4 linked regions of the Homo sapiens genome follow. The protein of the gene in region 2 interacts with the protein of the main gene of each other region in a biochemical or structural test. Each region holds a gene or a part of one and is shown on either strand. Other genes may lie near its edges.

Region 1 (8,147 bases), on a different chromosome or scaffold from region 2:
TGGGGTTGATCCCAGTCCTGCCACTTCCTGGCTGTGTGACCCCAGGTTATGCAAGTTATGCAACCTCTCTGAGCCCGGGCTGCTATTGCAAAGAGTGCTGCGTATGTATGCAGTATGTATGCATGTGCTGTGTACATAGGTAGTTTTGTGCATTTGAGAACATATCTGAATAAATGCTGGAAGTAGAATTGCTAGGTCAAAGGGTCTGTATATTTGCAATTCTGAAAGATGGTGTTAATTTGCCATTTGCCGAGGCTAAACCAGTTTATATCCACTTTAGCAATGTATGAGTCTGTCTTCTGTTCCACACATTCTCCAAGCATGCGTTATCCATTTTTTTGACCTTTAATAAGCTGATAGACAAAAATGGCATTTCAATGGAGTTCTAACTCATTTCTTTTTCAGTATACATTGAGTATCTTTTCAAAGGAACCATTTGTTTTTGTGTAAACTGTTGATATCTTTTCATATTTTGTACTTGTATTCATTTGTAGGAGTTTGACATATATTTGTTGGTAATTTGTGTTGCAAATTTTTTCTTATGTTAAAACAAGTCTAACTTCTTTTACAAGTGCTTTCAGCTACACCGTTTTGTTATTTCCCATTTTCATTTCTTGTTTTACATATTTCTGTCTTCTCCCCCATTAAATGATTATATGGTTTATGTTTTATGTGTTTTTAAAAATTTAGTTACTTATGCATTTAAAGTATATTTAGTGATATGTGAAAATGCAAATTACATAATTTTTAGGTGAAATAATCTAAATAAAGGCCCATTATACCAATTTTTAAAAAGAAAATTCATTATAATTTATAGACCAAAAAAAAAGAGAGAATAAAGCAAAATTCCTCCAAAAGCTGACAATGTTTATATCTGGTTAATGAGATAGGAGAAAGAGGTGAATTCTAGTTTTTGTCCTTTTTTTGTATTCTCTAAAATTTAGACATTTATTTAACCTTTTCTAATTAATGAGCTTTATTTCTTCAGAATAGTTTTAGATTTAAAGAAAAACTAAACAGATAGTACAGAGAGGTCCCATATGCTCACTCCATTTATCACCCTAGTTTCCCCAATTATTAGCATCTTACATTAGTATGGCACATTTATCACAACTAATGAACCAGTATTGATACATTATTATTAACTTATTTTAATAATTAATATTAATAATTGTTATTAACATATTTTTTCAGATTTCCTTTTTTTCTCAGATTTCAGTTTTTACCTAATATCCTTTTTCTTCTCTTTCTTTCTTTTTCTTTCCTTTTCTTTCTTTCTTTTTTTTTTTTTTTGAGATGGAGTCTCCCTCTGTCACCCAAGCTGGAGTGCAGTGGCACGATCTTGGCTTACTGCAACCTCCACCTCCTGGGTTAAAGCAGTCCTCCCACCTCAGCCTCCAAAGTAGCTGGGACTACAGGCGTGTGCCGCCACACCTGGCTAATTTTATTTTTTTAGTAGAGACAGCATTTCACCATGTTGGCCAGGCTAGTCTTGAACTCTTGACCTCAAATGATCCACCTGCCTTGGCCTCCCAAAGTTCTGGGATTACAGGTGTGAGCCACCAAGCCCAGCCCCTAATATCCTTTTTCTGTTCCAGATCCCATCCAGGATACCACATTATGTGGAATTGTTAGGTCTCCTTAGGGCCCTCTTCACTATGATGGTTTCTCAGACTTTGGTTCCGATGACCTTGCCGGTTAGGTCAGGTATTTTGTGGGATGGCCTCCAGATGGAATTTGTCCTTTGTTTTTCTCATGATTAGAGTGAGGTTATGGGTTTTGGGGAAGACACCCAAAGGAAGATTTCATTATATCATATCAAGGGTACACACTATCAACATGATAGATTAATATAATAGTAATATAATAATATAACATAATATAATATGATACATTACATGATTAGCTTTAATAGTTTATATGTTTTATTGATTTTGTTTTGTTTTTGTGGTAGTTTTTCCCAAAGAACCATCTCTTTAGTTTTTGCTTAGTTCTATTATTTCCCTATTTTATTATGCTCCATTCATTTTTTAAAATTTAATAGCATAAATATATCAGCCATGATTTCCTCTGAGAACTGCTGTAGAGGCACCCCGCAGGTTCTAGTATGTGGAATGCTTTTTGTTATTGTTGTATTCCAGATATTCTGCAATTTCTATATGGATTTCTTTTTTGATCTGAGTTGGGGTCAAGTTGTTTAAAGAATTTTTTAAAATGCCTAAGTGATAGGATTTTGTGATCTATAATTTTGTGATTAATTTCTAGTTTTCCTTCTGTGTTATCAGATACTGTATTATTTTTGCTTTTTTTGAAGTTTTGTTTGTGACCTAATATACAGGAAAATTTTTTTGATCATTCCATGAACACTTGAAAAGAACATGCATTCTTTGTTTTCAAGGTATAGAATTTGATGAACACATTAGTTAGATCTGTCTTATTAATTATGTAATTTGGTTTTTCTATGTCTTTACTTAATTTTGGTCCACTGGTCCATCATGAGCTAGAAGAGGGAAATTAAAATTACATGCCTCTGATGTGTGTCTGTCTAAGGCCCCTCCTTATATTTCCTCTAGCTTTTGCTCTGAATTTTGGTGCTATTTGGTGAGTTCGGTCTTCAATTGTGGATCGCATTCTTTATTATTATTAAGTATTCTTGTCTCACTTAAAACCTTTTGTCCTGAAATCAACTTTACTTGCCTAATATTAAGATTACAGTGCCTGCTTAGTTTGAGTTCACACTTCCCTGTTATGTGTTTGCCCTTCCTTTATTTTCAAAATTGTTAAATCACTTTGCTTTGGGGAATGTCTCTTATATGTAGCATATGGTTGGGGGTTTTGTGTTTTTCCCCAGTCTTATAATCTTTTTTTAGCAGTTTACTATGGCCATTTAATGACATGGTCAATATTTCGGTCTTAGTTTTACTATCATATTTCATGCTTTTATGCCTTTTTGCCTCTCTTGCTTTCTAACAAAATCTTTCAGTATATGATCTGTTTTATTTTGTATTATGTTCAAGGTTTGTATCTGCAAGATGTGTATTTTTATTTTTAGTTCTGGAGGTTACCTTTATAACTAGCCAAAATGGATTTAATCTTTTGTTGAGACCATGCTAGGTGTCTCCCTTCTGAAATAATCAATCACAAAATTAGTTTACAAATTTGGTTCCCATTTTTATCTGCTTTGTGGCAGCTTTTTTCAGGTGAGTTTGCTTGGTTTGCCATGTTTTGTCCTGTTCGTTTATTCCTTTCTTTCTTCTATAGCATCTTTGACTATATCCTGTGCTGGTTCCTCTTTGAAAGAGGTAAACCTTCTTGGATCAGCATTTTGCAGGAGACACATGTGGAGGAGGTACCAAGAAGAGGGCAGGATTGCTCCCTGGTTCCCAGGAACTTTGTTCACAGGGTTGTTGTAGTGACTTCCTTTAGTCTTTGCTTCTACTCTGTCAGCAGAGTTCTGCAGCTGTGGGCTTCTCCCAATTCAGAGCCCTCCTCTCACTCTGCCTTGCCAACACACTGCTTCCTGTGAAGATGGCGGGTCTGTGGTTTCCTCTGTTGGCCCTGCCCTCCTCTTCCCCCAGGGTGTAGGAGGCAGCTCCCACTACCAGACCACATGCCCTGTTCCCATTTTTTCTGATAAGGGATCATTAGTTTTTTCCTTCAGGGAATGCCAGCTCCTGGCTGGCTCTGCCAGCTTTGTCTGAGATCTGCCACCACAGGTGTCTTCTCTAGGTGTTTTCTCACAGTATTTTTGATCTTCACTGCTTTTGGTAGCCCTTACCTGTTTTGGGCAGCCTTTCCTTATAAGCTGTGTTTCAGGTTATAAATGTGTTCTAGTTTGCTGAAGAAGGAGTTTGCATTTCTTTTTTTCTCCTGGATTTTGGGTGATTTCGGATATGAAAAGGAGTAACTTTATTCTGCTATCTTAAAACTGCCTAGTGTTGCAAATTGTTATGTGTTCTGGTATTCCCTCAGATTGAACATTAGCCAGAGCTCTCGGAATAGGGTCAACATCTGCTGAAGCTGGGATCTGACAATAGAGAGGGAAGAGTATGAGAGTTAAGAATAAAATGGAATGGTGAAAAACCCACAGGATACTTGTCTGTGCTGTGTGGCAGCAGAGTTCTTTTCGTCCCTACCTGGACTTTGGCTAGGGGTGTACCACTGTCTGGGTGGGAGGTTGAGGCTGGGGAGGGCAGGGCATGAAAAACACCCATCCATCTCCTCATCTGGCTCAGGAGAAGTTGTTCTAGGCCCAGCAGCTCTCAGGCCAGGGAGGGGAGGGCACACGCCTCTGCTCTGGACAGGGCTTGGCTCTCCATCTCTCTCCATACCCAGGGCCCGTCCAAGTAGTCCGAGCTCCTTGGGTTCTGTCTGGTTTCCTAGTGATGGTGGCCAATTCCTTCTCCATGAAAACCAGGATCCTGTCTCAGGGAAGGCAGTCTGGGGTCAGTGCTGTTAATGGTATTTACCTGATCGAACAAAGAGCTCACCCATCCAAAGGGAGGGGATCCACATGGGATGCCCAGAGAACAGAGCCAGAGAGGAAAACCTGTCGGCAGAGTTCCAGGACCCTTTATATTATGGTCTCTCAAGTTCCCCCATCACCAGAGGGAGGTGTTTTATCCTCATGTTTTTTACTGGCAAGAAATCTGGAGTATCCAAGAGGCTAGGAGGCTTTCCTGTGGACCCACAGTAGGAGATGGAGAGAGGGATTTGGACGCAGTTCTGTCTGGCTCCAGAGCCTGGACACCGGCTCCCTTATCCTTCCTCCTCACCTCTATTGACCTCCATTCACCTTCCCATGGAGCTCTCACCCCATCTTCCCACGCTGCCTGATGTCCATGTCCCTGGTGACCCTGCTGCACCTTGTTCTGTGTCTTGCCGCTCAAGCCTGGCTACATTTTAGGAGGTTATTTAGGCTCCCCAGGACTCCAGGGTTGGGAACCAATGGGCCACACCCTACAGCCCTGTGTCTTGAGCAGCTGTGTGCCCCCCAGCCTTGGCACAAGGCTTGTCCCCTGGGATCAAAAGCACCTGGGTTCTCATCCAGGCTCTGACCTTGAGCAAGTCACAACTGCTCTGGGCTCACGCCTTATTTCTAAAATCAGACTCCCTATGATTGTTCTAGGTCCGGAACACAGACCCTGAAGCCAGATGACCTTGGTTTGAATCTTGGCTCAGTCACTTATTTGCAGTGGGACTTCGGCTAATCGCTTATCCTCTCTCTGACTTCAGTGTTCTCATCTGTAAATTGTGAATAATAATGTATATCTCTTATAGGGAGATGTTAAGGATTAAACAAACTAATAAACATAAATAATTTAGAACACTGGCATATGGCAGGTGCTAGATTAGTGCCAGATATGAGTGTACGAATTATTACTATTATTGTGCATGCAAAGGGCTCAGCCAAGGCATGGACATAAATGAAGGGATTGGCAACTGGCTGCTGATGCTGCTGCTATAACCCGTGCCCTTTGCTTCCTTCCAGGAGCTTGGGCCCCTGCCGCAGCCCGGTAGAGGCTGTGGAGGTCTACCGTCCGGAAGCCTGGTTCCCAGCCCCGTGGCCCATTCCTGGCTACGGGGAGTGGAGGCTCCCACGAGGTAGCGGTGGCCTGCAGCGGCCTCCTCCCCGCAGTGAAGCATGGGCCAGAAGCTCTCGGGGAGCCTCAAGTCAGTGGAGGTGCGAGAGCCGGCGCTGCGGCCGGCCAAGCGGGAGCTGCGGGGTGCAGAGCCCGGGCGGCCGGCGCGGCTGGACCAGCTGTTGGACATGCCAGCGGCGGGGCTGGCTGTGCAGCTGCGGCACGCGTGGAACCCCGAGGACCGCTCGCTCAACGTCTTCGTCAAGGACGACGACCGGCTCACCTTCCACCGGCACCCCGTGGCCCAGAGCACCGACGGCATCCGCGGCAAGGTGGGCCACGCCCGCGGCCTGCACGCCTGGCAGATCAACTGGCCGGCTCGGCAGCGCGGCACCCACGCTGTAGTTGGTGTGGCCACGGCCCGTGCTCCCCTGCACTCCGTGGGCTACACGGCGCTGGTAGGCAGTGACGCCGAGTCGTGGGGCTGGGACCTGGGCCGCAGCCGCCTCTACCACGACGGCAAGAACCAGCCCGGCGTGGCCTACCCGGCCTTTCTGGGGCCCGACGAGGCCTTTGCGCTGCCCGACTCGCTGCTCGTGGTGCTGGACATGGATGAGGGCACACTCAGCTTCATCGTGGATGGCCAGTACCTGGGCGTGGCCTTCCGAGGTCTCAAGGGCAAGAAGCTGTACCCGGTGGTGAGTGCCGTGTGGGGCCACTGTGAAGTCACCATGCGCTACATCAACGGCCTTGACCGTAAGTTGTGCTGGGCTGGGGGGCAGGGCTTTCAGAGGCTGCCAGGCCCTAGGGAAGCTGGGCAGGCCACACCTCCATCGCCACTTGGGAGGATCCTGCAATGTGGAGGAATGGTCAGGACCTGGGTTTCAATCCTGACTCTCTGCTGGCTTGGTGATTTGGGGCTGTGCCTTAGTTCTCCCATCGGCAAAAGCATCACGATGATAGTAATCTAGCTCACAGTTGTAACGATCAAATAAAGTAATAGTAATCTAGCTCACAGTTGTGAAGATCTAGATAACATGTGTGAAGTGCTCAGAACAGTGACTGGCACCCAACAGGGGCTTTGAGTGTTGATGCCAATTACCAATCTTCCAGTCTGTACAAAGGTTGTACCAAATGACCCAAGCTAGTCACAATGGGAAGACAGTGACAAGTCCCCAGTCCCTGCACTTAAATGCCATGTACTCAAGTTATTGATAAGTAATAAGTACTGATAACCGTCCTTTATTGGCCATCTACTGTATTTGAGAGGCTGAACACCCCAATTCCAGCGCTTATGGGCCAACTATTAAAGGGGACAGCTGCCTCTTATCTCCAGCCGACTGTCATCTCACGGGAATGAAAACCCTGGGTTGTGGAATCTTGTGACTTTTTCCAAGAGAGCCCAGAAATCTAGCTTGTGTGAACTGTTCCAATTTTTAAAGTTGACAGCTGCTGAAAAGTCTATATGGGCAAACAAAATACCCTTGCAGGCTACAAACCAGCCCACAAGCTGCTGGGGTTGACCCCTGACAACTCTATGGCTTCCTCTCATTTAATATACACAACCATCCGGCAAGATAAAAAGTGTAGGAACAAAGACGGTTATTGGTTTTGGGAGGGAGTCACTCAGGGAGACAGGGTGGCCTCTGGACAGAGGCACACGTGGCTGCCTGTCCTGAGTTGAATCCCAGCTGAGGGGCCAGGAGCCAGGCACTTGTGGGCTTGCACACTCCCCAACATCAGCCCACTAGCACCAATCCAGACTTCCTGCCACACCCCAATGAAGCTCTCAGAGGTGGCGCTGAAAGCTAGAATTTCCAGTTTATTCATTCTAAATAAGAGATGTAATTACCAGCCCCTGAGGCAGATCCTCCTTTTAGAAATAAGAAAACTTAAGAGCAGAGCTACAGAGAGCCAGAATCAGGGTTCCCCCCAGTTCTGATGGCCCTGAAGTCCACTCGTTTCCTATGTTCTCCCCTTTAGATGAGGGACTGAGAGTAACACTCCAGAAAAGAGTAACACTTCTCCAGAAAAGAAGTCAAGGACAAGATTTTACTCAAGCAAAATTTACATTTACTGGAGCACAGGAAGGGGACATTTGATGGTTTCCAAGGGTGGCAGGCTAATGGAAAAGTGGCTGCTGGTATGCTCAGCACTCTGGCATAATTGTCGACATTCTTGCTCATATTTTATTTCCGTGGTTGTTGCCTACAATTGCCATTGAATGGCAAAATGTTGTTCCATTTTCTCTGTTTAATGGGTTAAATCTAGGAACTGATGATTATGTCCCTGAGAAGGGCTAATTTAGTCATCACAGTGCCTTGTGGAAAGTGTCTGGAGCCTTCTGAGACATAGTGACCAGGCAAATCCCAGTGGTGAGAAAACCAACAGAAACAACAAACAATCTTTATTTAATGGAATTGGAAAATTTATTTGCTGGAATTAATCACTGGACTAGAAGAGTGGCCTTGGTGTACCAAGGCTCTGGAGTCTGATGTGACTTATTTCCAAGTGCTCAGTGGTTTTGTGTCTTTGGTGAGTCACTCTTACTCCTTAAGACTCACT
Region 2 (6,733 bases):
AGGTATAACATTGTGGTTATTCTTTTAAATTCTTACTATTAGAGATATATACTGAAGTATCTGCAGGTGAAAGGATAATTGGAGTTTAACTTTAAAACACCCCAACAAAAAAGAAAAAGGAAGCAGGACAGATAACAAAAAATTAGCAGGATATTGCTAGCGATTTTCTGTACTTTTCTGTGTATCTGAAATATCCATAGTAAAGTGAAAAATACCTGCCCAGAACTAAAAACTGTCAAGGGCATCAAAAACAAGGAAAATCTAAGAAACTGTCACAGCCAAGAGAATTTTATGGAGACACAGGTACTAAATATAATGTAGTATCCTGGACTGGACACTGGAAAAGAGAAAGGACATTAGGGGAAAATTTAGGAAATCTGAATCAAGTATGGACTTTAATAATCGTGCATAAATATTGGACGATTAACTGTGATAAATGCACAGTATTAATGTATGATGTTAGTAGGAGAAACTTGGTGTGGTGGCATATGAGAACCCTCTGTACTATCTTCACAATAACTTTATAAATCTAAAACTGTTCTCAAGTTTGTAAAAAGTAAACAGGAGTAGCTTATTTATTTATATAAAAAATGATCTTGAATCGATAAAGAGTCAATTTTATCTTTACTCATCAGGATGCAACACTGTGATTTCTCCACACTGATCAATTAGCTCAAAAGTGCTATTCATTTTCTGAGCTCACAGAAAGTATATTTTGAAGATTCAGGCTCCTCAGGGACCACCCATACAAAACACATACAAAACAAATTGTATAACTGATGAAACATACATTTATTTTTTCCAATCAAGTCTTAAAAGTTTGATGAAAGCGCATTATTGTTACCAAAAGTCTTCAGGCAATAACAGAGATAAAACTTAACACAGACAAACAATGATTTTATTCCATAGTCTCTTGGACTTGAGAATCCATTTGAGTTTCAGAAAGAATACTAAATTAATGGGGGTTATGTCAGGATGCCAATGTCCATGCTGAGGCTTCTCCTGATACAATCTTTTGCAACATAACCAACAAAGATCAGGAGCTTAAAACAAAACAAAACAAAAACAAACAAAAAACAAGTTCATGTTATTTCTACAATGTCCAAAAAGAAAGACCAAGATCTTTGCTTAAAAATAGAAATGCATACTGCAGTGGCTCAAAAACTTAGGCCTGCATCAAAATTACATGAAGCGCTTGTTAAAACAGATTGAGCCCCATCTGCAAAGTTTGTGACTCAAGTGTTGGGTGGGGCCAAATAATTTGTATTTCTAACAGGTTTCTAAGTGAAGTCAATGCTACTGGTGTCAGAAACACACTTTAAGAACCACTGGCAAAACATTTAATAAGACAATTCCATGATAAAAGTATATCATAACATAAAACCACAAAACTTTGGACTCAAAGACTAGCTTTGTGATACAATGTCACCTTACCAATCTGTACACTCCACAAGTTTTTAAAAATTAAACAATATATAAAGCACCTAACACAGCCTGGCACATACGGCTACTGAATTACTAATGAATGTTATTATGCTATCATAAGTTATGGTTAAAGTTATGCTCAAATTGTTACCTGAGATGCTTTGCTTCATTGAAACTATATTGATTATTTTTATTTTTGAGGTAGAGTCTTGCTCTGTCACCCAGGCTGGAGTGCAGTGGTGTGATCTTGGCTCACTGCAGTCTCGACCTCCCAGGCTCAAGCAATCCTTCCCCCTCAGCCTACCAAGCAGCTGGGACTACAGGTGCATGCCATCTTGCCCAGCTCATTTATTTTTTTGTATAGACGGCATAACCCTGTGTTACCCCGTTGGTATTACAGGCATGAGCCACTGCACCTAGCCAGGCATATTGGTTTTAAAAGGGTTACAAGAAACAAGATGCACTTTTAGGCCTCCTATAATCCTGCATTTCCAAAGCATCCATTTAGTCATCTCATCAAAATTTTCATTGATTTAAATAAGTTAATATGAACAGACTGACATAATTTTACTTTAATGATGTTGTTTATTGTCCTAAGCCATCCATACACAAAACGTTTAATGTGTTATGGAAGGCTAACAGTTTTTCAGCTTTTCTCAATACTTTCAGCCATCCATACATAAAATGTTTAATGTGTTATGGAAGGCTAACAGTTTTTCAACTTTTCTCAATACTATCAGATGAATGTATTCTTACCAATCATGATTTACGTTTTTCAAATGTGGATTTCTTAGGCCTTTGACTGATAGCTTTAGGCTTTTGCACTACACAAAGAAAAAGACACCTTTCTATTCATTTCTTAATAATTTGTTTCCATAAAGCTAAAATGTCCACTGATGACATAATCTACCTTTGGTTAATCACAGCAAATAGTTCACATTTTAAAGGAATGCAGATATTTGGATAGAAGCCTCTAACAATGTAAATATTGTGCATTTCAAGTTCCATAGTGTGTCTAACCAGGGATAGCAACTGATTATATGTGGATTAACAATAGTGAATAACTGAGCACATATTAACATGAATAACATACACAGCAGTCAAAACTTACTGTTTTTCATATGTGTAAAGTAAAAATTCAATCTATCTTTAACCGGCTCATACTGTTTTCATGTTGTTCAACTATTTGACACAAAAGGAGCTTTTTCCTTTCTTTAAAAGGATTTTGATTCAGTCATAACAGATTTTTGAAAGTGACAGTAAAATTATGCATTTGGTCCAGGATTAAGAGGGAAGTTTTGCTTGCTAGTGTCTATCTGGTTAGACATCAGAATAAAATGAATGGACTGTAAAGGATCTTATAACCAGTCTCTCTCTTTAATATGAAGGCCCAACATTACATAATTCTTTTTAAGAGTTGACCAGGAATGAAATGTAACCTCTTTTAAAGATGAAGAAAAACTGAAAAAATGAGATTAAGAAAATATGTGGGTAGTTTACAGCTGCTGATAGAATTGTGTGCACGCGTGCATGCATGCATAAACACAAAGTGAATCTAGAAGGGAAAAAATTGAGTTTGATGAAGTCTAAGATGAAAGGTTCCATTTCATGTAAGATTATGTGACCTTGGAAAAATTTACTGGCTTGCTAGTGGAATACGTCCTTATATAGGGACTTGAAGAGTTTATCTAAATAGACTGACTTAAGGATGCTTTTCCTCTTGTTAGACTTGTATGACATTACTGAGAAGATTTAGAGTTCTAGAAGTAGAGAAGACTGATTAGCTTGTGCCTGTGTATGAAGAATGACAAATTAAGACAAAAGGTTATGTAAACCATTTACTAAAAAAGTCTAAATTTTTATATTCCTAGGCCCCTACTTATCTTTTACAAACTTTGAAGGACCTGAAATTCTTTGGACACCATCAGATTTAGTTTATAAGAGTTCTGATTTTGAATCAAGAAATTATTCATGTAGTTTTAAAACACAATTAAAATTTTCAGTCAGGCTGAACTTTTGTGCACTTCCTCATTTATTCGAGAAACCCCACCACTAATGTATTTAGACCTTAATATGATGGCTTTGAGTCTTAAATCATTGTCCACCTAAAATAATATACCAAATAAAGATTTTTAAAGTGCTGCATATGGTTTCTGTAAGAGGTACATAATTAGATTACCAGCATTATCCTTTAGCTTCAAAAGTAAAACTCATAGTCAGGATTTTACTGATAGTACAGGAAGAAAAAAAATAACCACTGTTGAAAAATAAATGAAAAAAATTTTATTGAGTATTACTTTATACATGCAAATTGAAAGTGAATCTATATTAAGTTGACTATTCCACAATAAAAACCTATGAAATGGGAATGATCAAAGCTGTCTAACACAATACTAATGTGTTCAATAAATTATCCAGATGTTTTTCCACAAATATTTGGATTACCTGAATTAGCTGATTCTTCAGCAAAAGTTAAATTTTAGCTTTAATATGGTAGCAGCAGGATGCTACTTAAATTTAGAAGAAAAACATAAGAATAAAAACCCTGAATAGCATAGCCAAATCTTCCAAGAAATAAGTTCACCAAAAAAGTAGCATACACCTATTTGGTATCCAGAGGAGGAAACAAAACACAGGCACTTAATCAACATCCACCAAGTGATCATCACTAACATTCTATTATTACCAGAGTAACTGTCGATATGTGAACTGTAGATTAGAACAGACTTACATATCTAAAAACAAACCAGTAATCAATAATATATACAGAAATACTAACTTGAAGTCACATTTAAATACCATCAACAGTTTGGTGTATCTGATATAACTGAATTCATTTCATCACTGCTATAAATTCCTTAAAAGTGTTCTTTTCCTAATTAACATTATCTTTAAAAAATGGTAGATATTTCCCAGTATGCATCAGTTTTTTCACTCCACCATTCAGTAAATGTTGTAGCAAATTAAATAGAACCTATTAACTAGATCTAAAAACAGTGGCTGAATACTTAACACAAAGAAGTACTTTTGAGTAAACTATTCAGATTAGACAGGCTAATGCTAAGACTGCATTTTGTGCTACTGACATGCACTATATAGATCGTACACTACTAGATGGAAAGTTGGTCCATGTCCATTTATTTAAAGATTCTGTAACACCTGTAATAGTATTTAATACAGCTCCCACATACTATATTCCTCTCACATAGACATAGTTATTTTTAGTGGGGATAAGGATATGACTTTAACATGCTATGAGATTCTAGCTAAGTAAAATAAAAACAATATGGACTCAGATTTTCTTAGGAGATATTAGTTCAAGTTTTTAAACTGGGAAACAATCAACTTCCATATATCCAGGAGAAACTTAGCATGGGGGGAGGTGCCTTAGTTGATGTGCCTGATAAGCAAACTGTTAGTTGTCTATTAGTATTATGTTTTCGGCTTAATGTAACAACAAAAGAAAGTTGTCACACTACCTCTCAGATAATATCAATTACAATCTTAGAGACTGTAATTGGGAATACAATCCTATAACAAGTTATTAACAATATCATGAATAGTTATTAAGTAAGTGCCAGCACTACATGCAACTTACTGGTCACCAACTCAGAACCCATAAAACTATACACATATGCACAAAAAAAAAACTCCAAAGAAAGATACCTATCACTGTACATATGAATACTGTCCAGGATATCAGATCAATTATCAAATCCAAGGTCTCTGCTGTTTTGTCTTACAGTGTTGAATATATGAATGCTTCTCTATTACACTGACTTGTACTATTTTCAAGAAATTAAGTGGATTCAAAATCTTACATTTTTATTTCTAATTATAAAATCCAGATTAATCCAAAAAACACAAACCACATGTAACCGAGGTAGGTTTTTCACCTTAAGAATACATTGCTTCTACCACAATTAAAAATTTTTTAAACTGAAGAAAAAAAAAAACTACATTGCTCCACATACCTGATACTTAATTTTCTATGTTTGAAACTACTTGAACAAGTGTGACAGTGCTAATCTACTATATTTAGTAAATCCCTTAGTACCTATAAATACACACCCAAAAGCCCTTCCCTCCTTCTCTAATGGTAACTGTTGTATAATAAAATTGTCAACAACTCTAGAAAGATGAAATAAAGATTACTATAGCAATCTTCAATTAATTCATTTCAGAAATCAAGGAGGCAAGTCATGTTCATTTTAAAGATGACAAACTTACTATTTTGAAAATGAGCTCATAAATACATTAGAACTTTGAATGTGCTTTATTATGCCACAAATTCCCAGGAGATTTAAGAAATAGTATTTCTGAACAGGAATAATAATTTCACAAATACTAACACTTTATTGACAATAGACAAGTCTTTTAGGGTAGTGCACATGTACTTAAAAACTACCTTCTACCAATCTCAACACTTTTTATAAATTTTCAGGTGAAACTGTAGCAGATCCTACTTTATTTTTCAATGGTTAGTGTAAAATTCTGTATGTAAAATAAGTACATATTTTGAGATGGAAGAAGGACTGCATGTGAAATGCTTTGCCTAAGTTGTAAGGCTCCTGTCTTTACGCTATCATTAAAGGCCAAAAAAATCACTGCTAGAAATGTTCCCCAAAAAATTCTTAAACAGCTCAGTCTTTAAAAGTATTAATAATTTTTTTTTTTTTTTTTTTGGAGACAGAGTTTCGCTCTTCTTGCCCAGGCTGGAGTACAATGGCGCAATCTCAGCTCACCGCAACCTCTGTCTCCTGGGTTTTCAAGCGATTCTCCTGCCTCAGCCTCCTGAGTAGCCAGGATTACAGGCATGCGCCACCACACCTGGCTAATTTTGTATTTTTAGTAGAGACGGGGTTTCTCCATGTTGGTCAAGCTGGTCTCAAACTCCCGAACTCTGGTAATCCACCCGCCTTGGCCTCCCAAAGTGCTGGGATTACAGGCATGAGCCACTGCACCCAGCCTAATAACTGATATAATTTTTTTAAGTGAAATGAAATGTTCCTTTATTTACATATGAATTAAATAGAAAATTCAAAGTAATTCTTTTAATAAAAACCCATATACTAATATATTTTAAGGTTGGATACTAACAGCATTTTCACAAGATCCAAAGTGTGGATGACGAACTAGGCAATAAGGACATGTGTGCCACATAACTAAGGGTAACTAAAGGAAGATGAGTACCTCACAACCAAAAGCAGTTAACTATGCCTGGCATACCACCCTGTCATGTGGGCAGATCACTGTTCCCATGCTGGGTAAGAGTCTCCAAGAAGGGAAGCCCTTATGCAGTAATTCT
Region 3 (8,791 bases), on a different chromosome or scaffold from region 2:
AAAGTGAGAGGAAAATAAAGCAGGGTGTTACTAAAGAAAGAAGGAAGAAATTGGCTAAACGAATTTAGAACACAAATAAAATTACTGCACAAATAAAATCTCTGCTTACGATTAAGCTGGAATGGCGGTCAAAAAAGAAAAGGGAAAAAAAATTCCTAGATGCAGGTAGATTTCTATAATTAAGCCATTTCTCAAAGGGGAAGTAAATGTGACAGAATATTTAGCAAGCAAATTTACTGAGGAATATTTTGTTCCTATATAATTAAATTCAACACTGAGGTAAAACTGACAACTATTAAACTGAGGGCAGTTGGGAGAGGGAAAGGGGATGAGATAAAATCCAGTCTATAAAACATTCCATTATCTTTTATAGGTTAAAAAACACAAAAGAAATACTTGGAAAGAATTGTCTAAGACGGAAAGATTTTAAGATTGTGTGACTTTTTTTTTTTTTTTTTTTTTTTTTTTTTTTTTACAGGTGCAGAATAATTTTTTTTCCCTCTCTCGTGGTTTTTCTTTTCCCCATTTTTTTCCCCTGTTGTTTGCAAAGTTGAATCTGGGGTCAGGAGTTCTAATTGTAACCTCAGACTGGAATTCCAGATGGTGCGCTCAGGACTGGAAGCAACTCTCAGTTCATCAATTTCATGGGCCTACGTATCTGCTCTGGCCACGGCCTGGCCTCCATCCCCACTGTGGCATTAATGCAGAACAAATTGAGACATATCCTCTATATAATTAGTTCCAGAATTTAAAAAGATTTACGGTATAATAATAGAGGCAGTGCCGCGGAATCCTTTCACTGAGGACTCTCGGGGAGCTCGGGGACCATCTCGCGGTGGCATCAGAACAGACGAGTAACCCCAGCGGCTCCAGGCACTGCGAACTGGGGGAGAGGGGGAAATTTTGCACCGCATTCGGCAGTACCTAACGGTTCCGGGCTCCCAGATAGGGTCAGCGAGGAGAGTTAGGACAGTAAGTGGGGACTGGTTAAAAAAAATCGACTTAATTTTGAAATGATCAGAAGAAGCTGGGAGTAGTTATCACAAAGCCCCTCCCTTGCCCCCCCCTTTTTTTAATTGAAGGAATGACGTTGAAATTTTCACCGCCAGCGCGGGGCTGGGAACCATCCTAAACACTTGCCCTGCAGCCCCGAGTGGGCAGATTCCGAAGAGTTGGAGTCGGCGGGGAGGGGAGGAACAGCTGTTGGGCTGTCTTGCGCGTGGGGCTCGGGGCGCGGGCCCCGGGGAGAGGCGCTAGTCGAAAGCTTGTTCCTCTCCCGCGACAGGCAGCAGCGAGGTCGAGCCACTCTTTATTACGGCCTGCGGGCCCCGCGCGCAGTGTGGCTGTCCCCGCCCTTGACCGACCGCAGCGCTTTGGGGTGTTTATTCAGTTGTCCGCGGCCGCTGGGTGACTCCCGGAGGGCGGCCCAGGCGTGCGCACTGGTCCCTGGGGTTGCGGCTGTAGCAGCCCAGCTCCGCGCTCTGTCAGATGCAGTGGACAGCGCCGGGGTGAAAGTAAGGGTTGAGAAATCCTCACTGCCCTGCTCCTACCCAGCCTCGATTTTTTCATATTGCAATAATTATGCACCTTCGAGGCCGGGATGCCTGCGCTTTGCCAGTGTATCAACGCCACATGGTTTTCCAGGGGCTGTCCTCGCCTCTGCATCCCATTAGCTCTGAAGAGGTAGAGGGGTGGTGGGTAAAACCTCCAACTGGACGTTGAGAGACCCGGGTTTCAGCTCGGCGTTGCCACTAACTTGTTTCCTGTCCTTAAACAGTAGTAGTAACAAAAACTGTAAAGTTGATTGAGTCAAAGGCCCACACTGCTCTCCTATCTAATCCTCAGAACAACTCTATGAGGTGGGCGCTAGTATCCCATTATCCCGTTTGACCAGTAAGGAAACTGAGGCTCAGAGAGACTGCGGAACTCGTCTAGGGTCACACAGCTGTTGGTTACCTGGCAGAGCTGAGGTTCCATTCTGGGGCCACCAACCCCTTGCTCTTTACCGCTGCGCTCCATAGACTGCCTCTCCTTCGGCTGTCTGGGCCTCAGTTTCCTTCTCTGTAAAACGAGAAGTTTAATCTGCAGCTTTCTTTGCCAATCGGTGGTTCAGACCAGGAACCTCTGCTACAGATCTCGGCGCTGACAGGGGTAAGAAGGTGGGTGAAAGAAGGGGGCGCCCAGTTTTCCACAGCCTGCTTTTCTCTGGGACCTCGCGAAGGGCGGGCCTCGCGAGCTAAAGGAGGTACAGGAGAGCGCCTATCGTCCGCGGCGGGTGAAGGTGCTACCTGCCTTCGTGCTAGGCTGTGAGTCCTGGTGCTTAGCTCAGGGCGCCAAGGCCAGTGTAGCTGGCATGTCCCCCTTGGAAAACCTCAGGTCTCCCGCAGAGAACGTTACCCACAACAAAGAAGAGGACAGAGAGGCATGGAGCGCCCTGCGACTGCAGGAGTACGTCAGTTCCCCAGCGCTGGCTTAGTGTCGCCTGGGCTTCCGGGCATGTGGATCCGTTGGGGTCGTACGGAGACTTCCTGTCGGGTCCCTGGGGTCCTCCGACTGCGGCTCCTCAGCTTAGCACTTTCTTCTTGGCCCCGCAGGCTGCAGGGAACTCCTCCCACCTCTTTAGTCGGAGAAGTCCAAGTCGGGCGAGGGGGCACCCCGGGGTTCGCACCGGTGCTCTTCCCCTCCCCGCCCCCACAAGGATTCTGAGAAAATAAATGGCAGAGGAGAGAGGAGTTCTACATTTGCTTGGCTCTCCTTTCCTCCTATCCACCCCTACATCCCTCACCCCGGGGCAAAAACTTATTTTTGAAAAATGTTGGCAGAGATTTACGTGTCTTTGCCTTACCTGGGTTTCACAAACACAACGACTCACATTCAAGCCAGCCTCCCTTCAGATAACCTCCTCTCCCCCCGCTAAAAGTGCCAAGGATGGTAAAAGAAGAAACAATCTCAATCTTTTCGTTTGGAAATGAAAGTCCCCGGCTTTTCATAAAGGGCTCCTCGCCCCTCACAGTTGAGTCCTAGTTAAGAAAAACGACTTCCAAGTAGAAATAATAGGCGGGGAGAAGGAAGGGAGATACAGGGATCTGGGGGGTTCTTAGGGCAACTGGCAGTGAATTTTGTCTCGAGAGTCCTTTCTCCACTCAAAAAACCAAACGCGCGAGCCCCGCGAAAGGTTTAGGGATAGATCGTGTGGGAGAGGACTGAGCAGAGAGCGTGGGGGCAGTGTCTTGTAGAATCTTTCTTTTCTTAATAATAATTTTAAAAGCTTCTGAGTGGAGACGACGCAAAGTCAAGCAGCAAAGGTGGCCTGGGAGGCAAGCGGAGGGCTCAAGTGCCGCATCTTTACCCTCAGGGTCTCCTGCGCCTACGGGATGCGCATTCCCAAGAAGTGCGCCCTTCGAGTAAGTCCTGGGCCCGCACACACTTCGGGTCCGCAGCCAGAATTTAATGGCGACAACGTTTATGCAATGCAAGCTAAAAACCAAAGCGTAAAAAATTACTATGTCATTTATTGAAACGCCATTCTTTGTCAAACTGCAACTACTTTGCTTCACATAAGTTTGGCTGGAAAGCTTGCAGCCCCAGCCCGGGCCAGCCAGGTACAGGAGGCCGGACTGCAACCGGTTGCTTCCCTCCCGTCGCGCCTGGCCGTCCCACGCTGCGCCGTCGCTGCTGCCTCCTGGCGCCCCTGGGATTTTATACGCACCTCTGAAACACGCTCCGCTCCGGCCCCCGGTTCTTCTCCTTGCCTAGGGGTTGTTTCCCAATAGATACTGACTCCTTTAGAAGATCCAAAAACCAAACCAAAACACCCCCTACCCGCCCCAAACACCTGCTCTGGGGCGCGGGGGCTGCCAAACAGAGACTAGACGAAGGGAGTCAGATTTAGCGAAGCTCTTCGAGCTCCCAAAGATTCGAACACTAACTCGCGCCCGTGGGCCGATGGAGGTTCTCCCTACTCCACTCCTTGGTCCCCTTAACTGGCTTCCGCCTCCTGGTCAATCACTGAGCAACCAGAATGGTATCCTCGACCAGGGCCACAGGCAGTGCTCGGCGGAGTGGCTCCAGGAGTTACCCGCTCCCTGCCGGGCTTCGTATCCAAACCCTCCCCTTCACCCCTCCTCCCCAAACTGGGCGCCAGGATGCTCCGGCCGGAATATACGCAGGCTTTGGGCGTTTGCCCAAGGGTTTTCTTCCCTCCTAAACTAGCCGCTGTTTTCCCGGCTTAACCGTAGAAGAATTAGATATTCCTCACTGGAAAGGGAAACTAAGTGCTGCTGACTCCAATTTTAGGTAGGCGGCAACCGCCTTCCGCCTGGCGCAAACCTCACCAAGTAAACAACTACTAGCCGATCGAAATACGCCCGGCTTATAACTGGTGCAACTCCCGGCCACCCAACTGAGGGACGTTCGCTTTCAGTCCCGACCTCTGGAACCCACAAAGGGCCACCTCTTTCCCCAGTGACCCCAAGATCATGGCCACTCCCCTACCCGACAGTTCTAGAAGCAAGAGCCAGACTCAAGGGTGCAAAGCAAGGGTATACGCTTCTTTGAAGCTTGACTGAGTTCTTTCTGCGCTTTCCTGAAGTTCCCGCCCTCTTGGAGCCTACCTGCCCCTCCCTCCAAACCACTCTTTTAGATTAACAACCCCATCTCTACTCCCACCGCATTCGACCCTGCCCGGACTCACTGCTTACCTGAACGGACTCTCCAGTGAGACGAGGCTCCCACACTGGCGAAGGCCAAGAAGGGGAGGTGGGGGGAGGGTTGTGCCACACCGGCCAGCTGAGAGCGCGTGTTGGGTTGAAGAGGAGGGTGTCTCCGAGAGGGACGCTCCCTCGGACCCGCCCTCACCCCAGCTGCGAGGGCGCCCCCAAGGAGCAGCGCGCGCTGCCTGGCCGGGCTTGGGCTGCTGAGTGAATGGAGCGGCCGAGCCTCCTGGCTCCTCCTCTTCCCCGCGCCGCCGGCCCCTCTTATTTGAGCTTTGGGAAGCTGAGGGCAGCCAGGCAGCTGGGGTAAGGAGTTCAAGGCAGCGCCCACACCCGGGGGCTCTCCGCAACCCGACCGCCTGTCCGCTCCCCCACTTCCCGCCCTCCCTCCCACCTACTCATTCACCCACCCACCCACCCAGAGCCGGGACGGCAGCCCAGGCGCCCGGGCCCCGCCGTCTCCTCGCCGCGATCCTGGACTTCCTCTTGCTGCAGGACCCGGCTTCCACGTGTGTCCCGGAGCCGGCGTCTCAGCACACGCTCCGCTCCGGGCCTGGGTGCCTACAGCAGCCAGAGCAGCAGGGAGTCCGGGACCCGGGCGGCATCTGGGCCAAGTTAGGCGCCGCCGAGGCCAGCGCTGAACGTCTCCAGGGCCGGAGGAGCCGCGGGGCGTCCGGGTCTGAGCCGCAGCAAATGGGCTCCGACGTGCGGGACCTGAACGCGCTGCTGCCCGCCGTCCCCTCCCTGGGTGGCGGCGGCGGCTGTGCCCTGCCTGTGAGCGGCGCGGCGCAGTGGGCGCCGGTGCTGGACTTTGCGCCCCCGGGCGCTTCGGCTTACGGGTCGTTGGGCGGCCCCGCGCCGCCACCGGCTCCGCCGCCACCCCCGCCGCCGCCGCCTCACTCCTTCATCAAACAGGAGCCGAGCTGGGGCGGCGCGGAGCCGCACGAGGAGCAGTGCCTGAGCGCCTTCACTGTCCACTTTTCCGGCCAGTTCACTGGCACAGCCGGAGCCTGTCGCTACGGGCCCTTCGGTCCTCCTCCGCCCAGCCAGGCGTCATCCGGCCAGGCCAGGATGTTTCCTAACGCGCCCTACCTGCCCAGCTGCCTCGAGAGCCAGCCCGCTATTCGCAATCAGGGTAAGTAGGCCGGGGAGCGCCCCCTACGCGCGGGGCAGTGGCGCCAGGGACTCTCCGCTCTAGGACACCCCCCTCTCCTACCCCTTTTGACCGCAGCTCTTACCCAGCTGCTTCCCAAGGGCCGTGAGGATAGCGGAAGCGGCGGCTGGGGAGGAGGCCGGAGAGTGGGAGTGCACGCAGGCACTGGCCCCCGACATCCTCCAAAGCCAGGCAGAGCTAGGAGCCTGACTGTTCGCAAGAGCCGGGAGGGCGTCTGGGGCCCCTTAGAGTCCGAGAGATTCCGGGACTGCTAGTCCCCACGGGAGTGGAACCAGGAGACCGGCGCAGTGTCTGGCTCTGCCTTGGGGAGAGTTTTGTTAATTAAGGAAACGCCAAATTGTCACCAAGCGTAGCGCTTTTCAGACGTCTGGACTCTGGATTCGGAGTGGGACCAGCGCGGGGGTGAGCGCCTGTGCTGTGCTGCCTCCGCAGCGCTAAAATGTCCAGGAGCACCTCCAGCCCTTATAATACGGTGTTGGCACACACTTAGGTGCACATTAAGTATCGTAGAGAACTAGAATGAGCACATGCACCTCCAGTAACTAAATGGCTTTCTGGAACAGCGTCGTGTCCGTGGATAGCTCCCGCGTATGGTAATACAGAAGTGGATCTTCACTGGGCTTCGCTCAGGCGGCGGCCACGCAGGTTCTGGGGATGGAAGAGAACTTGACTTATCCGAGTCCAAGCTATGCGGGACCAGGTTCTACCGCAGGCAGTGGAAGGAGGCACGAGCTTTGGCCTTTCTTTCAGCGCATCTGGGGCGCCTCTTCATCTTGTAAACGCGGGGCTCAGCTGGGACAGTATTTCTTCAAGACCTGGGGTTAGAACAAGGACAGGGTTATTCGCTGTGCTTAGTCAGGATACAAGGAGGGAACTCGGCACACGATAAGTATCAGGTTGGTTTCTCATCCCGCGCCGATGCCCGCCCACCTCTCTTTCGCCTGGGCGGCGCGGACCCGAACCTGCGGAGCCCCTGTAGTTTGCCCTCTTCATTTATTTTCAGTGGATTTCCACGCTATTGAGAACCTAAGCCAGTTCGGTTTGATTCGGTAATTTAGTAAACGCTTTACTAATACAATGGCGGATGCTTTTCCTGGAGCAAAATTACTCGAGGGCCTAGGGACCGGGATGTTTTTGGAATGCGTGGGAAGCAGAGTGTATCTTTTGCAGGAGGTACCTTCGCCCAAGGCTCGGGAGAAGGGCTCTGCCCTTGTTGCCCGCCTTCACCCGCGCCTTCTAAACGCGCGTCTTCAGGCCGCTCCTACCTTAGCCTAACCAGGAGCACCCGGCCCCCGCGAAGCCTTGGAGAAATCGAAACCGCCCTTTTCTTCGGGAGAATCTGGGATCACTGTCCTGTGGAGGAACCGCAAGCAGACCCAAGGGTTGCCTCCACTCTATGCTTTTAGTTAGTGAAATTAGTGTTTTGTACTCAAGGGGCGTTGGGACAACTTACTGGTCGCTGAGGCTTGTGTTCTTTGATCAGATCGCGCCACCTTTGTTTAGCAGGCTGGTGTTACTTTTGGGGAGTTTCTAGGTCTCAGTGTCCCCGTCTATAAGAGGACAGCTGAGATGGGCAACCTGGAGATTGGGTCCGGCTTGAAGTTATACTCCATAGATGCAGAAGCGCTACCCACCACCCTCTTGGGGCTTTAAATATGGAACTCGGCAACCCATCTAAACATCTGTGACTGAGAAACAATGAATCCGAGAGCACTGTCTGCATGTGTGCTATTTGGAGGCGGTTGAGAAACCATCGAATCCATGCCCCTGGGGCACAAAATACTACTACGCCATTATCTTTTTAGTACTTCTAGGGGATTTTTGAAACCTGGGTTCTGTCGCTTCGTTTGGGTCCCTTGTCCAGCCCTTTTCAGGGCAGGTCTGGTGCCTGGGATCTTATCACATGTCGTGGGGGGTGGGACTGTGGGTTTTGCAGCCAGCAGGCATTACACTTCTGGAAAATATCTGGATTCTTCTGTAATATACAGGCGTGGCTGCCATGGAGAAAAAGTTAAAAGGGGACCAGGACTAGTAGGTGAATGTATCCTTCTTCTCCACCCTGGAGAAAAAGCCCAATGGAGAGAGGGCCCTAGATTCAAGTCATATAGCCTGGAAGCACCATCTCCAGGTTTAAGTTTTGTCTTGCAGTGAAAACAGATGGGTCCATCTTACCCAGCCCTTGAGGCTCATTGGGCAGCTTGGATGTGAGAAGCGCTCCGGCTGCTATCCTGGAGTGGGCAAGGGTGGCCCTCGAGATTCTGGGTTTATTCTTTGGATTTCCAGGGTTCCTGCTGCTTCCCCAGGAATGCAGGGCCTGGCCCAAGACTTGGGCTGTGAGAGGCAAGGGCATCAACTCTCAAAAATGTGGAAATGGCCATCAGAGCGCCAAGGCCAAACCCCAGGGGAGAGGAATCAAGGCCGTCTCTGGATCCCTAGGGCAGTCTAGCCATGGTGCACAGGCAGGGGCAATTGTTGGTACCCACTCACAACCGCCCAAAACTTCACAAGCATGTTCATATTTTAAATTCTTAAATATTATATCTTGCATCCTAATCTTGTAAACATTAATTTAGCAAACATCAATCGCCTACTTGGTCAGGCACTGGGTTCTGAATATTAATTAAGACAATGGCCTCGAGAACCTTTGCAAGAAGCTCACCAGCTAATCCTGGAGAGGCCCCTTGTTTTGGATGAGGAAATCCAGGTTCTATGAGATTAGGTGGCAGAGGTGGGATTTGAACCCAGACCATGCTAGGGTGTTTCTACTCCTTTTCCAGGGATCTTGGCCCCACCGTTGAGATGGATTTCTTCTGGCCTGCGGGAGGGGCACCAAACTCTTAGTCCATGTGTGGGGGTTGACGGGTTTGTGAGGGCAGATGTGGGGTGAGGACTTGAGTAGCCCCAG
Region 4 (8,147 bases), on a different chromosome or scaffold from region 2:
TGGGAGGCTAACGCAGGAGAATAGCCTGAACCCGGGAGGCAGAGGCTGCAGTGAGCCGAGATCACGCCACTGCACTGCACTCCAGCCTGGGAGACAGAGCAAGACTCCGTCTCAAAAAAAAAGACTCCGTCTCAAAAAAAAAAAAAAAAAAAAACCATGGCAATGGCCAGCTTGGGCCACCAGTTTATCAGTTTACTCTCTCCAGCCCAAGGGGTAAGCAATGTCTGATCCCCAGCCGCAGGGAGGTGGCGCTGGGAGGAGAGTCCTCTGGAGCCTCCGTGGGTGGAGTGGGCCTGTGTCCCATGTCCCACCCCGTGCCCCCTGCCGGCCCCTCGTACTTGGGATCTTTGACGAGCAGCCGGCGAATGAAGTCCTTGGCCAGCTCGCTGGTGTTGCTGAAGTACTCCTCGTCGAAGTCGTAGTTCACGGCTGAGATGTTGGTGAGCGTCTCCTGCTTGGTCTCGCCCAGGAACGGGGATGCACCGCTCAGGCTGCGAGACAGGCGTGGGGGCTCAGTGGGGTCCTGGGCTCCCACCACGGCCGCGCCGCCTCTCCGGCTGCCCACGACAGGCGGAGCACAGAAGACAGGCTGACGGCAGGTGCCTGGGCCACTCACACTCCTGAGCCCTTAGAACCTTCCTGCAACGATCCCAGACACCACCCAAGAGGCATTCAAAATCCACCCCCCCACCCCGCCACTGACAGCAGCAGAAATGAACAGGCAGAAGTCTCCTTGGAGACTCGAAGTATCTGTGCAGACGCAGAGCCCGAAAGCCCCCAGTGCTCAGTAACGCCGAGGGGAGGGTAACTGCAGTGGGGAGCCCGAGCCAACACCTTAGCCAAAGGATCAAGGTCAACAGCCCGGCAGTGAGAGGCCCCAACAGCGTCTGCCTCCCAGCCTGACGCTGGGAGGGTGACACAGCATCATCCCTGGGGTTTTGAGCAGAGACACTGAAGCCCCGTCTGATCGTCTGATCGTGACAGCGCACGAGACTAAACGTGGACTCAGACGCCTTCTGCAAAACACCTGACCCGTGAGCACAAGTCAGGGTCAAGGTCATGAAAGCCAGACAGAGGAACAGCCTCAGACTGGAGGCGGCGAAGGAGCTGAATGGCTAAATGCCGTGTGGGGACCTCAGAGAGGACAGGAGTGGAAAACGGGGGTGTCTAACCACCTCTGGCACTTTAAATTTTTTAAATTTTTTAGAGACGGAGTCTCGCTCTGTCACCCAGGCTGGAGTGCAGTAGCGCGATCTCGGCTCACTGCAAACTCCATCTCCTGGGTTCATGCCATTCTCCTGCCTCAGCCTCCTGAGTAGCTGGGACTACAGGCACCCGCTGCCACACCCAGCTAATTTTTGTATTTTTAGTAGAGACATGGTTTCATCGTGTTAGCCAGGATGGTCTCAATGCCCTGACCTCGTGATCTGCCCTCCTCAGCCTCCCAAAGTGCTGAGATTACAGGCGTGAGCCATCGCACCCGGCCCATCTAGCACTTTTGTGATTAGCGTAGCACCAAGGCTAACGTCTTGGTGTTCATAACGTTCGTGTTCATGAAAAATGTAAACTGAAGGAGGAGGAAGCTGCAGGGGGCGTCTGTGCTGTTTCTGTTGCTCCTTTGTAAGTCTGAATTATCTGAACATTTAAAAAGAATACAAACGGTCTAGCCCATCTCCTGAAGCCTTTGGGTCCGCTCACGCACTACAGCGGGCTGGGCCCACGCCATTGTTTATTTCCTTGCTTACTGAATGAGCTATGCCCATTCAATATGGCTGGGCAACACAGTGAAACTCCACCTCTACAAAAACTTTTAAAAATTAGCCAGCTGGGCACGGTGGCTCACACCTGTCATCCCAGCATTCTGGGAGGCCAAGGCGGCCGGATCACTTGAGGTCTGGAGTTCAAGACCAGCCTGACCGAAATGGTGAAACATCGTCTCTACTAAAAATACAAATAATTAGCCAGGCATGGTGGCAGGCACCTGTAATCCCAGCTACTTGGGAGGCTGAGGCATGGGAATCACTTGAACCCGGGAGGCAGAGGTTGCAGTAAGCCTGAGCTGAGACGGGGCCTTGGCACTTCATCCAGCCTGGGCAACAAGAGCGAAACTCTGTCTCAAAAAAAAAAAAAAAAAAAAAAAAATTAGCCAGCTGGGTGCAGCGGCCCACGCCTGTAATCCCAGCACTTTGGGAAGCCGAGGCAGGCAGATCACCTGAGGTCAGGAGTTCAAAACCAGCCTTGATCAACATGGTGAAACCCCGTCTCTTCTAAAAATACAAAAATTAGCTGGGCATGGTGGTGGGCGCCTGTAATCCCAGCTACTCAGGAGACTGAGGCAGGAGAATCGCTTGAACCTGGGAGGTGGGGGTTGCAGTGAGCAGCTGAGATCGCACCACTGCACTCCAACCTGGACAACAAGAGCAAAACTCCATCAAAAAAAAAAAAAAGTCCGAGCATGGGAGCATGGTTGTGTGCACATGTAGTCCCAGGTACTCAGGAGGCTGAGGTGGGAGGATTGCTTAAGTCTGGGAGGTGGAGGCTGCAGTGAGCTAGGACAGCACTCCAGCCTGGGCAAGAGAGTAAGACCCCGTCTCAACAAATAAAAATAATAAACAACAGCAGGCCCACGTGTGGCCCAGGGACAGGAGCCAAAACCCAGCGTGGGGTCGGACCCCTTCCTTGCACTTCGAGAGGAGGCTGGGCTCCCTAGCAGCCAGAGGGACAGGAGCACACACGACCCCCAACCCGGAGCCTGCTCAGCCGCTCTGTGAGTGTCCTGCCTTCAGAACTCTCCAGAAGCCTCTGTGACAGCAGCCACAGAGAATCACTCATCCGTTCACCCGGTATCCCCTGAGTACCCGCGATGGGTCACAGCCAGGCTGGGGACCCCTGGCGTCCACATGAGACACACGGAGCCGGGGACCCATGCCAGCTGTGTTGCACAGCCGAGGGGGCCCCCGCCAGGTACTCACAGGATATAGGTGATGACACCGATGCTCCTGGGGACAGACAAGAGGCAAGGGTCAGCGCAGCGTGGGGCCGCCCACCCTCCCAGGACCGTGGCGTCCAGCGCCCCTGTTCTAGGGCAACGGTCCCCCCATACCCCAACAGCAGCAAGGCCCCGCTTCATCCCCAGCTGCAGCACTGGCCTGCGCTCCAGGAATGCAGGGAGGCCCGGTGGGAGCAGGTGGTACACTCACCACATGTCCGCCTCCAGGCCCAGCGGCTCATAGTTCACAATCTCTGGGGCTGCAGAACAGGGAGATGTGGGTCAGGCACTGGGGACATGCTGGCCAAGGAAGAGGCTCAAGACACAGGCATGGGGTCAAGGTTCTCACATGTCGCAGCCCTTGGGGGCATGAATGCGGCAGAGCTGGCCCTCAGGGCCTGACGGGTAGGACAGCGGGGCTGCACCAAATGGAGGCCCAGACCTCCCGCAAAGCCGGGCCCAAGAGGGGTGGCTTCAGGGCCGAGGACGCGGCACCCAGCACCGGGCATGACCCACCCCACGCACAGCAGGCAGCCCCAGACCACCCTCCCCAGGCCGGGGCTGCCCACTGGGCAGGGCCTCACCCACAAACTCCGGGGTGCCGAAGATGTTCTTGAACTCGTTCCCCGCCTCGATCTTGTGCGCGATGCCGAAGTCGATGAGCTTGATTCGTGGGTTGGGCACGTTCTTGTCCAGCAGCATGATGTTTTCCGGCTGGGGTGGGAGGAGGCTCAGCAGGGAAAGCACGGGCCTCCCCCACCCTCACCCCCACGCTCCCCAAACCTCACCCTCACGCTCCCCGCAACCTCACCCCCACGCTCCCCCAACCTCACCCCCACGCTCCCCAAACCTCACCCCCACGCTCCCCACACCTCACCCCCACGCGCAGGAGGTGCCTTCCAGGCTCTTCCCCGCCCCATCCCCACCCCCACACTGGCCAGGCCGGCCCCACAGGGCCCTACAGGGCTCACCTTCAGGTCAAAGTGTGCGATGCGCTTAGAGTGCAGGTAGTGAACGCCGTCCAGGATCTGCTTGAGGAACTGGGTGGCCTCGTCCTCCGTCAGCGACTCCTTCTCCGCCAGGAAGTCAAAGAGCTCCCCGCCAGAGACCAGCTCCAGGATGAGGACCACGTCCGTCTTGTTCTCGAAGATGTCGTGCAGGGTGATGATGTTGGGGTGCCGGATCTCCCGCAGGATGTTCACCTCCCGCTCGATCTCCTCCCGGCTCACCCCACGCCGGCTGGATGACAGGCGGCGCTTCTTGATGAACTTGGCTGCGTACTCCTTGCCCGTGCCCTTCTGCCGGCACTTCCGCACGATCGCAAACTGGCCGCTGGAGGAGGGGGAGGGAGTGAGTGGGGGTGGAGGAGGCGGAGGGAGTAAGTGGGGGTGGCTGGCTCCCCGTCACCTCCACTTGCTCCTCTTGGGCGCGGCCCTGCACCAGGCACTTGAAGGACATGAGCTGGCCACTGCGGGGGTGCAGACTCTGCGCCTTCTCAGAGAGCAATTCCTTAGCGCCCCACACCATCAGACGCGGCGTTCCCACCCCTCCCAGGGCTATGCCCAGCAGGTGTGTGGAGGGGAGTGCAGAGCCACACGTTAACACCATGGCACCGGCGTATTTTTGAAAAGTGAAAGAATGAACAGTTCAATGCATATCAAGAGGGAACTGAGGGGGCCAGGCGCGGTGGCTCACGCCTGTAATCCCAGCACTTTGGGAGTTCGAGGAGGGCAGATAACTTGAGCTGAGGAGTTCAAGAGCAGCCTGGCCAACATGGTGAAACCCTGTCTCTACCAAAAATACAAAAAATTAGCTGGGTGTGGTGGCGGGTGCCTGTAATCCCAGCTACTTGGGAGGCTGAGGCAGGAGAATCGCTTGAACCTGGGAGGCAGAGGTTGCAGTGAACTGAGATTGTGCCACTGTACTCCAGCCTGGGCAACGTAGCAAGATCCTGCCTCAAAAAAATAAAAAGTGCAAGGCAAGTGCCAGATCCGCTTTTTTTGTTTTTGTTTTGTTTTGTCTTGAGACAGGGTCTGGCCCTGTTGCTCAGGCTGGAATGCAGTGGTTCAGTCATGGCTCACTGCAGCCTTGACCTCCTGGGCTCGGGCAATCCTCCTGCCTCAGCCTCTCAAGCAGCTGGGACTACAGGCACATACCACCACACCCAATTAATTTTTTTTTCTTTTTGTAAGGATGAGGTCTCACTATGTTGCCCACGCTGGTCTCGAACTCCTGGGCTCAAGTGATCCCTCCCAAGTAGGTGGGACTACAGGAACACACTACCACACCTGATTTATTTATTTTTTGTAGAGACAGGGTCTTGCCGTATTGCCCAGGCTGCTTTGGAACTCCTGGCCTCAAGAGATCCTCCCACTCCCCCACCCCAAGTGTTGGCAGTACAGGTGGAGCCGCTACATCTGGCCAGTATCCGCATTTTAAAGAAACCAAGGCTGAGAAAAGGAAAGCAACTAGCCCAAGGTCATGCAGTCAGTCAGTGGCGGGAGGATTCAAACCTTCAAACCAGGTGCTGCAGGCTCCAGAGCCCAGGTGCTCTAACAGGAAGCAGACAGCTGCTGCTGGGTACCGGGTTCCTGCGTGCCTACCTCCCGGCTCCACGCTGTCTCCTGCTAACAGACCCAGCTGTCCCAGGGCAGCCTTTGCCGCTCACTCTCAGTCTGTGGGACTCAGTGGCCCAGGAAAGGGGTGGAAGGGGACACGACTGGACCTGGGCAAGCAGAAAACCACGCCTTCCAGCCCAAAGAGACCGGTCCAGTCCACAGGGCTCTGAACGCCTGCTGGGAAGAGAGGATCTCTCTCTCCCTCTGCTGGGCTTGGATCCAGGCTCGCGGCAGGGGCCACCACGTAGAAGGCTACCTAAGAAGCCTGCCTAAGAACAGACCAGGCCAGGAGAGGGGAGCCACCAGGCACTGCGGGTGGCACATAAGCCCCGTCATTCACTCTGCCAGGGCGCCTCCTCCATGCTGGAGTGGACTTCGGCCCCGGGGACACAGGGCACCATATGCACCAGCACCCAGTCACACCTGCGGCCGCTGCACACCTGGACAACCTGGTTCTGTAAACCACGCCTTTCCCTGTTTTGCTATTGCCAACCAGATTTCAGGTTCTGCCACTGAGTCCTCCTACAGCAACAGCAGACCACAGCCGCCCACCTCCAGACAGCCCCCGGTCTCACTGGCCACAGACTTGCTCCTTAGAGGCAAGGCCACTGGCAGGCTCTCAGTTCCTCTACGGAATGTGAAACGTGCCTCATCTCCCCAGCCGGGAAAGAAACTCCCCAAGAGCTGAGCCCACCCTCTTCGCTTCTCTGTAACTTCCCCAGCCCCCAGCGCAGGTGGGGGCACAGCAAGCCCTCCTCAGTGATGGTCTCAGGTGTCACTCCCAACCCACTTCCTAAGTGCCTGCCACAACCCAGACACGACCCAAGCGTGGCCTACACACCGACAATTTCTACTGATAGAGTTCATGATGTTTAAAAATGCGGGCTGGGAAGCCGGGCACAGTGGCTCACGCCTGTAATCCCAGCACTTTGGGAGGCAAAAGCGTGCAGATCACGATGTCAGGAGTTCAAGACTAGCCTGACCAACATAGTGAAAGCCACGTCTCTACTAAAAATACAAAAACATTAGCCGGGCGTGCTGGCAGGCATCTATAATCCCAGCTACTCGGGAGGCTGAGGCAAGGAGAATCGCTTGAACCTGGGAGACGGAGGTTGCAGTGAGCTGAGATTGCGGCATTGCACTCCAGCCCGGGCGACACTGCAAGACTCCGTCTCAAAAAAAAAGTGTGGGCTGGGGCCAGGCACAGTGGCTCACACCTGTAATCCCAGCACTTTGGGAGGCAGAGGCGGGCAGATCATTTGAGGTCAGGAGTTCAAGACCAGCCTGGCCAACATGGCAAAACCCCGTCTCTACTAAAAATACAAAAATTAGCTGAGCACGTTGGTGGGCGCCTGTAATTCCAGCTACTTGGAAGGCTGAAGCAGGAGAATCACTTGAACCCGGGAGGCGAAGATTGCAGTGAGCCAAGATGGCACCACTGCACTCCAGTCTCGGCAACAGAGCCAGACACCGTCTCAAACAAACAAACAAAAATTGCTACATTCTGGGCCTTCATCTTGCACTTCATGTATCTCTGAGAATGTTCCAGACCACTACCTGAAGCAGTGCCGTCAGAACAGCAGACACTGGCCACCCAGAGCTGTCAAACCCGTGAGGTGTGGCCAGTCCCGAGAAAAACTGCGACATGAAATACACACCAGACCTCCAAGGCTTCACGGCAAAAACAGAAGGCTAAATACTTTTTTTAAAATTATGAATTTCTGTTTGTTTGAGAGATGGGGGTCAACTTATGTTGCCCAGGCTAGTCTTGAAGTCCTGGGCTCAAGCGATCCTCCCGCCTTGGCCTCCCAAAGCGCTAGAATTACAGGCGGAAGCCGCCGCACCTGGCCCTGCCTGGTTCTTTTTACAAGCTGCATCCTATTCCAGCCCTGATGCAGTGGTTTGGGGAAGGCCATTTAAGAGGCTGCTGTTCCCAGCGGGGTGCGGTGGCTCACGCCTGTGATCCCAGCACTTTGGGAGGCCGAGGCAGGTGAATCACCTGAGGTCAGTAGTTCGAGACCAGCCTGGCCAACATGGTGAAATCCTGTCTCTACTAAAAATACAAAAATTAGCCAGGGGTGGTGGCGGGCTCCTGTAATCCCAGCTACTCGGGAGGCTAGGCTGGAGGCCGAGGCTGCAATGAGTCGAGATCGCATCACTGCACTCCAGCCTGGGCGACAGAATGAGATAGTGTCAAGGAAAAAAAAAAAAGGCTGTTATTCTGGTAAACGTTCTAGCAACTACCCCAGTCTTAAGTCATTCCATCCATGTATGTACAGTTTTCCAATGAATTAATTCCTAGAGGTGAAATCGGCGAGTTAAAAGAAATTTGGCTGAATTTTGCTGACTTTTGCCAAACGACCCCTAGCAGGAGGGGTCAACACTGAAGCATGAGAAGGGGGAGGAGGGAGCATGCTTTCTCTGCCACTAACGAGGAAATTCCTGAAGGAGGGACCTCAGGATCCCAAAAGAGCCTGCAGCACTCTCCCTAGCCTGACACAGAGCTCACTTATTTACATTCCCTTCTGGTGACATCATGG

Evidence for each region.
Region 1: the proteins of PAWR (region 2) and SPSB4 interact in a biophysical measurement, tested with the Homo sapiens proteins (one study listed by BioGRID and IntAct).
Region 3: the proteins of PAWR (region 2) and WT1 form a complex in vitro, tested with the Homo sapiens proteins (one study listed by BioGRID).
Region 4: of the proteins of PAWR (region 2) and DAPK3, one has a biochemical effect on the other in vitro, tested with the Homo sapiens proteins (2 studies listed by BioGRID).

Annotation. Positions count from the first base shown.
Region 1 is NC_000003.12:141,060,461-141,068,607, forward strand, and holds part of SPSB4 (SPRY domain-containing SOCS box protein 4), read left to right. Parts: intron 1-5,491; 5' UTR 5,492-5,644; coding exon 5,645-6,338; intron 6,339-8,147. UniProt on the Homo sapiens protein: Substrate recognition component of a SCF-like ECS (Elongin BC-CUL2/5-SOCS-box protein) E3 ubiquitin-protein ligase complex which mediates the ubiquitination and subsequent proteasomal degradation of target proteins.
Region 2 is NC_000012.12:79,584,106-79,590,838, forward strand, and holds the end of PAWR (PRKC apoptosis WT1 regulator protein), read right to left. Parts: 3' UTR 774-6,733; downstream 1-773. UniProt on the Homo sapiens protein: Pro-apoptotic protein capable of selectively inducing apoptosis in cancer cells, sensitizing the cells to diverse apoptotic stimuli and causing regression of tumors in animal models.
Region 3 is NC_000011.10:32,431,756-32,440,546, reverse strand, and holds the start of WT1 (Wilms tumor protein), read left to right. Parts: upstream 1-5,007; 5' UTR 5,008-5,186; coding exon 5,187-5,847; intron 5,848-6,506; exon of another isoform or gene 6,507-6,782; intron 6,783-8,791. UniProt on the Homo sapiens protein: Transcription factor that plays an important role in cellular development and cell survival. Recognizes and binds to the DNA sequence 5'-GCG(T/G)GGGCG-3'. Regulates the expression of numerous target genes, including EPO.
Region 4 is NC_000019.10:3,960,671-3,968,817, forward strand, and holds part of DAPK3 (death-associated protein kinase 3), read right to left. Parts: intron 4,322-8,147; coding exon 3,961-4,321; intron 3,704-3,960; coding exon 3,574-3,703; intron 3,250-3,573; coding exon 3,201-3,249; intron 3,000-3,200; coding exon 2,973-2,999; intron 843-2,972; exon of another isoform or gene 744-842; intron 492-743; coding exon 339-491; intron 1-338. UniProt on the Homo sapiens protein: Serine/threonine kinase which is involved in the regulation of apoptosis, autophagy, transcription, translation and actin cytoskeleton reorganization. Involved in the regulation of smooth muscle contraction.